2 linked regions of the Homo sapiens genome follow. The protein of the gene in region 1 purifies or fractionates together with the protein of each later gene. This does not show direct contact. Each region holds a gene or a part of one and is shown in the gene's direction. Other genes may lie near its edges.

Evidence for each region.
Region 2: the proteins of STRN (region 1) and SLMAP purify together in Homo sapiens (affinity purification with mass spectrometry; 5 studies listed by BioGRID and IntAct, with this or other methods). This does not show direct contact.

What each region holds. Positions count from the first base shown.
Region 1 is NC_000002.12:36,840,910-36,844,667, reverse strand, and holds part of STRN (striatin), read left to right. Parts: 3' UTR 1-3,758. UniProt on the Homo sapiens protein: Calmodulin-binding scaffolding protein which is the center of the striatin-interacting phosphatase and kinase (STRIPAK) complexes.
Region 2 is NC_000003.12:57,927,271-57,930,623, forward strand, and holds the end of SLMAP (sarcolemmal membrane-associated protein), read left to right. Parts: intron 1-25; coding exon of another isoform or gene 26-118; 3' UTR 119-2,733; downstream 2,734-3,353. UniProt on the Homo sapiens protein: Associates with the striatin-interacting phosphatase and kinase (STRIPAK) core complex, forming the extended (SIKE1:SLMAP)STRIPAK complex.

The sequences.
Region 1 (3,758 bases):
GTTAGGCCAAACAGATCCCTAGATCCCACTCATTGATTCTGGCGGTATTCCTAAAGTGGTGCTTAGGGGGTCAGAATTTTCTGGATCTTTGCTAATCCAAGCTTTAGATTTAATTTAACCAGGACCACATGCTTGTCATCTCTCTGATGCAAATTTTCAAAATCATTTTAATTTAGATTCTAATGTCTGCCTGGGTTTTTAACAGGCTGTGAACCAGTGAGTGCCTTGTTAATGTAGAATGATTTTTCCCCCCTGGGTGGGTGTTAGTTAGCTCCTCTCTGAAAATGTCTCAGAGAATGGTATTTTAATTGACTTGTAGAGAGCTGCTAAATTTGTTATTATCAGCAATCAGAAAGTCTTTGGTCTACCACACATCTCCCTCCCTACTATCTCTTCATTGTTTGGCTGAAGTTTGCCTCTTGTGAGAAAACAATACAACTCCCCTTCTCCACACACTTTTTTTCCAGCCCAGATTAATAGGTATCCCCTACCCTAATCCCAACTCTATGATCTAATACCTTTTTTAGGAGGAACCACTTCTTTTTAATATTGAAATCTGCTGGTTACTTTATGTTTTCTCAAGTTCAGTTGACTAGAGCTGACCACAGGGTGTCATCAATTCAGATTCCTAAATAACCCTTTCTCTCCACACCCAGTCCTCCAGCTGGTGAGCCCTGGGCCAGATTGTTTGATCTTCAGGTATTTTAAATTTTAGTTACATCAATTAATGTAAATTAATCCAAATGCTAATTTTTGTGGTGCAAGAAGTTTCTTATGTAAATTCAGGGTATGGATAAGCTAATTAAGATATCCATCTTTGGTGGCTCTAAGTGTATTATTTGTTTTTAAATAAAGTGTACAAATATAGATAACATGCTATAGGTGTCTCATGAATTGGAATATTTGTCAGATTTGGGATCTAGCTGTGGCTTTACAGTAATCAGTTAAATTAACATAGTCTGATTTGGGGCTTTTGGGGGAGGAGTTGTAGAGGGGTGCAGAGAAATAAAAGGATATTAGACAAAGTATACATGAGTCCAAAATTAATGAACCAGTCTTAATTACTGATTGTGAGGAAGGAGAAGTTTATAGAGAATTTGGGCCTCTGAAAAGCCAAATTAAAATAGCTTCTAGGATTGGGTCAGTGGTACTTTCAGAGACACATATGTTTAATGAATAGGTTTTATGTTTTTCAAATGTTCAGTTTAAATGGCTTTTAAAATTTATACACATATATAAATACAATGTTTTTATTTTTTGTTTCGCTACTTAACAGACATACACAAGCCTTCCACACTCCCTGCCCCTTCAAATCAACATTATTTTTCAAGGCCTTTGGCCTGCCCAGAACTCACAGTCTTTTTGTTCCAATCAGGATCCACAATACAATATGAAATTTAAAAGGCATCTCTTCTGATATCCTTGAAACTATCCACCATTGTTTGGTGTTCTGTATGCTGGTATACTAATGAGTATTATATCCTTTGGTATGTACACACATTTTCAGTAGTGTTGGAAACACCTCTTTTATCTTTTTAATGAGAACTGAGACATGATTAGCTTGAGTAATTTTGGAGATCTATCTCAGGAGGTCATTAAAACTCCAAAAATTATTCACGGATTGATGAACCTCCTGGGGTCAGCCTAAGATTGCCAGGTAGTATTCTGACCTCCTCTGGGTTTCCCAAGATCACTGATGTTTTGCAGGGCCCCAGCATTGTCCTGGCACATAAAATATTCCCAGAACACCTTGGGAGTCAAGCATACCTTTTAACCTAAACATTATAATCATGGAGCATCCCTCCGCCTGTTACTTCTCAGGATGACCAGAACACTCCAGTTCTCTAAGGAAGCACTGACATACGGCTCTGAAAATTGGAATCCGTTTTCTGAAACACAAATTTTAACTCAGTAAGTTTTGTATATCAAATGATTCAAAACCCACCAAACATAAAATGACTCGCTTCTAAGTATCACTCAAACCCTACAAAACCTAACCCTTTCCTTATTCCTAATTGATATTTCACTAAAGGTAATGGTAGTTTCAGTTAGATTGGAAGTCATTATTTGGGTGAGCAAAGTCTGCAATAACCTACTGATAGGAAGGACCTATTTCATAGAAAAGTATCTTGTCCTTGGTGATTTAGCCATTCACCTTACGTGAAGAGTGGTCCAGATGCCAGCTCCACATTGACTTTTTCTGTGTCCCTCTTTAGGTAATTAACCCAGTGATGTAAAGGAGAGCCCACAGTAAAACATCTGTTAAACAGCACTTGGAGTACTATAGTGTTATTAATTTATGTGCTATAATTTCTTATGCCATCATAAAATCTAGTGTATGTACCAGGTTCCCAATTCATTGCCTCAAACAAAAGATTTTTAAAAATTCTAATAGCATCAAATTAAGGGTAATGGTAGGGAAACCCATCATCCACAATTAAATATGCCCAAACTGAAAACTTTAAGAAAAAAAAGCACATGGAAAGCAACGTTTTACATTAATCGTGAGTTGTAGAAATAAACAGCTTGTGGTTTGTATATGTGCCGAAATGTTAAAGTATGCTGGCATCCAACTACTTCCCTTTGGAAATGGGACCAAGACAATAATTTTTCATGCATAAACAAAATTAACTTAGAGCAAAAGTAATTTTATCAGAAACAGTTTATTTTGGGGGCTGGATAACTTGGGTGAGAGTGTGGGGAAAGAAGTACCTTACCAAAAAGGAGAAGCAACTGACCCTGTGGCCTGAGCCACATTGTCTTCCATTTCAACTTCAATGGGCTGGCAGTATACCACTTCTGACCTCAAAGAATGAATGGTTCCAATTCTGGCTTGTCATTGGTCCTTGTTATCTAAATTAAATATTTTTAGGAAATATATCAAAAGTATCCTAGAGCCCCATGGCAAAGTGTCAGAGGAAATAGTTTTCATTATATTTTAGGAAGCTGTAAAAATATAAGCCCAAGTATTTTGTGTCATCTGCATATGTCAGGATGAAGACCAGGCATGTAAGAAATATCCTAAAGTAGCCAAGTGATAATCTCATGAAAAAATATGAGAATCGTTTTTACAGAGTGAGTTCTCTTTTGAATGGTTTTGACTATGCTTTTAAAAACATTTTTAAAATGTACTTACATCTTTTTCGATAGCCCACGTATTTCAGAATATCCTCTTGATAGAATAATATCACTCAGTGTGATTTTTAGAAAAAGAAAAACTCGGTGGTCTCATATCTTTTGACAGTTGTTTGTGAATAATACCCTCCCCAACAACCTTCCCAGTACTCAACTGCTATGTAAGAATGCTTTCTTATGTGGTAAATGTCTCAGTATTTTGCTGCCTGGTATTTGTTCAGTTTCCTTGTATATCTCAGGGTCAGAAGGAATCAGGCTTTCTCCCAACTCTGAAACATTCAGACTTACTTTCTTTTTGGTCAGCCTTTTAACAAGCAAGACAATAAACTCCTTTTGTCAGAATCGATTTGATTAAAAAAAAAAAAAAAGAATGTGCTCCTTATTTCTCATTGCTGTAGAATACGTAGGAATACACATCTACTAATCACAATTAAAAAATAAGAGAATCTTTAGAAACATCATTGCTTTCTGGAGGTAGAAATTTTGAACTTGAAGGTTGTAGTTCCAGGCAATTTTGTGCCCTTGAGGTGTCCAATTGATAGTATAGCTTGCCTCTGCTAATAAATACACAAAAGTTTTCTTTCCTGTGATTTTCAGAAATTATTTTTGGAATACAAAGATTA
Region 2 (3,353 bases), on another chromosome or scaffold:
TGACTCTTGGTTTCTTTCCACACAGAAACCCTGGCCCTGGATGCCCATGTTGGCTGCCCTGGTTGCAGTAACAGCCATCGTGCTGTACGTGCCAGGTCTGGCCAGAGCTTCTCCATGAGAGCGTTCCTTGAGTCCGTACACCGTCCTCCCTCTAGAAGCTGGCATCACACTCATGCTGGGGACAAACAGAACCATTTTCTTCCTCTTTACCTCTTAAAACAGCAGAAGTACAAGAATACAGCTGTAGGGTCATTGCTTTAAATTATATAAAATGTATCTGTCTATAAAGAAGATATAAAATTGTGACTTTATTCTACTGTAAGCAATAATTTGCTTGCAATTTTTCATGTAATTTTTAAATTAGTATGTTAAGATTCTGAATATTATGGTGGCCTAAAGTAGGCTTCTTGGTACACCAGATTATTTATAACATTAAATTTATGAGTATTTTACTCTGAATTCTGATCACCAGATAATTCATTTTTCTGATTTGATAACTACCCAAACCAAACAACCAATACATACATGGGAAGAGAGGCCCTGTGTGCTCAGTGCCTATCAGTTTGAAATATATACACATATATATATTTTTTACATATTTACGCCATTTTTACTTGTTATGAAACCACTGAGCTATTGGGAACAAGACTTAGAGACAACTATTTGCGTGGATTTTTTTTTTTTTAAGGAAAAATACGTTTGGAAAATAAACTGTTATGGTGATAATTTGGGGAATATGTGCACGCTTGTTCAGCCTTAATGTGACTTGAAGATGTGGAGGACATCAACTTTGAAAAACTTTCCATGAGAGTGTATTTTCTTGAGCAAACTGAAGTATTTCTGGGAGCAAAAACATAGTAATTACACAATTTCAGTGCAGTCAACCAAAATGTTGAGTCAATTGGAATGTAATTTATTAAACCATGTATTTAAAGAGATATTTTTCTTTAAAAGCCAAGTTACTTTCTCATATACAGCATTTTAGGAAGCATGATTTTTTTTTTCTATCATCTATTCCTCCAAGCATGTTTAATTGAAGAAAGTATTAATATCTCTTTAGATAAGCTTGTATTGACCTAATTTGGTTTATGATGTGTCAGAGCTAATTCATGTTCAGGGTGAGCGTTGTACCTACCAACAAATTTCCTGGTTGGGTATGCAAATGGTTATTTTCTTTTTATTGTTGTTAATTGGGACTTTCTGTTAATGAAAAGCACTATTCCCAAGATTAATAGTGTTCTATGCACAATGAAGCACCTAAAAACACTGCTTGATATTATAAATTTAAAACACAAGTGAAAGTTTAGCCATGGTTTTGTGCGGCATCATAGTTATGTCAATAAAGTTTATTTAGGTCATAGAATATCCTAAAGTATCACATAGTTAAATTTTTCAGTCAGTGAAGACCGGGAGGGAATGTCAGTGAATTGGCTTGAATGTTCTGTGGCAATCCACAGGTCTAGCCAAATATTGAAATAGGAGTTTAGGGTATAATTTGCCTTGTGATGTTTGGCAGTCACTGTTTATACTTTAAAGGTTATATTTTAAGCTATTTGAGATTGCTTTTGGGAAGATCACTAGATTTATGGAGGAATTAGTCACAAATGACTTGTAGAAAATACTGTCATATAGTTCATTTCATCATTTTCTGTTGCAGGAAGCCACTCCACCACAGAATGCTAATATGCCAGTGGTACCCAGTACCTCTTGTATATAGGTTATTGCAAATATTGTTCTGAAATGCTTAACTTCAGAATTACATTTTTTAAAGTAAATAATTGTTTTAAATCTATTTTGTAAAGATATAAAGTACAATAGAATTTCTGGAGTACAGATTAAACTATTTGCACTAACACACGTGACGTGCATGATTTAATAAAATAACTTTACTCTCCCTACGCATGTTTGAGTTGAATATCATTGAAGTTCTTAATGCTGACTCTACTATTGGGTTGTTAATAGTCTTCTCTTGACATGACTCTTTATGCAACATAACATACATTTGGTATTCTTCAGGGTTTAAAAGAAAACACTGAGCTGTTTCCTCCAAGTTTTATTAACCTTTTATTTAACTTACTGCTTTATTTTTTTCTCTTTTAATATGGTTATTGTTAAAATGAGAGTCACTTGCTAGACTGGTCTCTTTAAATGTAAGGTCTAGTATCAATATTTACTTCATTCAAGTGGAATAAATGGCTTTTTGTAGTTACTTCCAGTTTTCCTCAAGAATAGAAATAAGTCTGTTCATAAGCAATACCTTCAGTTTTGTTCAGTTCACTTCCACGTTAAATAAAGAATAGGATTATTCACTGGTAATAATAGAGTCATTAAGAAATATTAAGCATTGCAGCTAAAAATTGAACAACCCTGTAATGATACATTTAAGAATTATTCAAAGGTGCTACATGGCAGGGTTAGAGAATAAAAAGAACGTGGTGTTTGAAGCAAAACAGATCTGTATTGGCATCTTGGTTCTACCTTTTATCAGATGTTGTTGCCTTGTGCAAATCACATTTTCTCTGAGTCTCCATTTTCTCATTTATAACATGCGGAGAATAATACTTATATTTGTGGTAGTAGTGTGAACATTAAAAAGATAATGTATGTGAAGTACCATTCGAGTGGTGAATACGTTTTTATGAGAATGTCATACTGAAAAAATATTGCAAATATTAAAGTTTTAGGTAAGCCTAAACTTTAATCTACTTTAATTAAATGAATTGATTGACTCAACCATTCAGAATTTCTGTGTATGAGTGAGATATGTGTGTAACATTATGAATCCTGAGAAAGCATTATCACCTAGCTCTGTTTGTCGCCTTCATAGTTCACTCTTTTGGAAGTAATATGCTTGGTTTGGTGATGAACCAATTGCCCACAATGGTTTTGGAATTCCTGTTGTTATTGCCTTTAGAGCCACTTTGAGTCACATGTGAAAACCATTCACGTTGCCCTATAGTCAGAGGCTTTCAACCAAAACTAGTATTGCCTACTTGATCTCTCACTTTAATCACTACACTTGACCAAAATCTGGTGACTCTTGGCTGCTTCCAGTGACTATCTACTATCAAAAGGATGGGAATCTGCTACCAAAGAGAAAAAACTGCATGCAAATCAACTGAGTTAAAACTGCAGTCTTGGCTGGGTGCAATGGCTCACACCTGTAATCTCAGCACTTTGGGAGGCCGAGGCAGGTGGATCACCTGAGGTCAGGAGTTGGAGACCAGCCTGGCCAACATGGTGAGACCCTATCTCTACTAAAAATACAAAAATTAACCGGGCATGGTGGTGGGTGCCTGTAATACCAGCTACTCAGGAGGCTGAGGCAGGAGAATTGCTTGAACCTGGGAGGC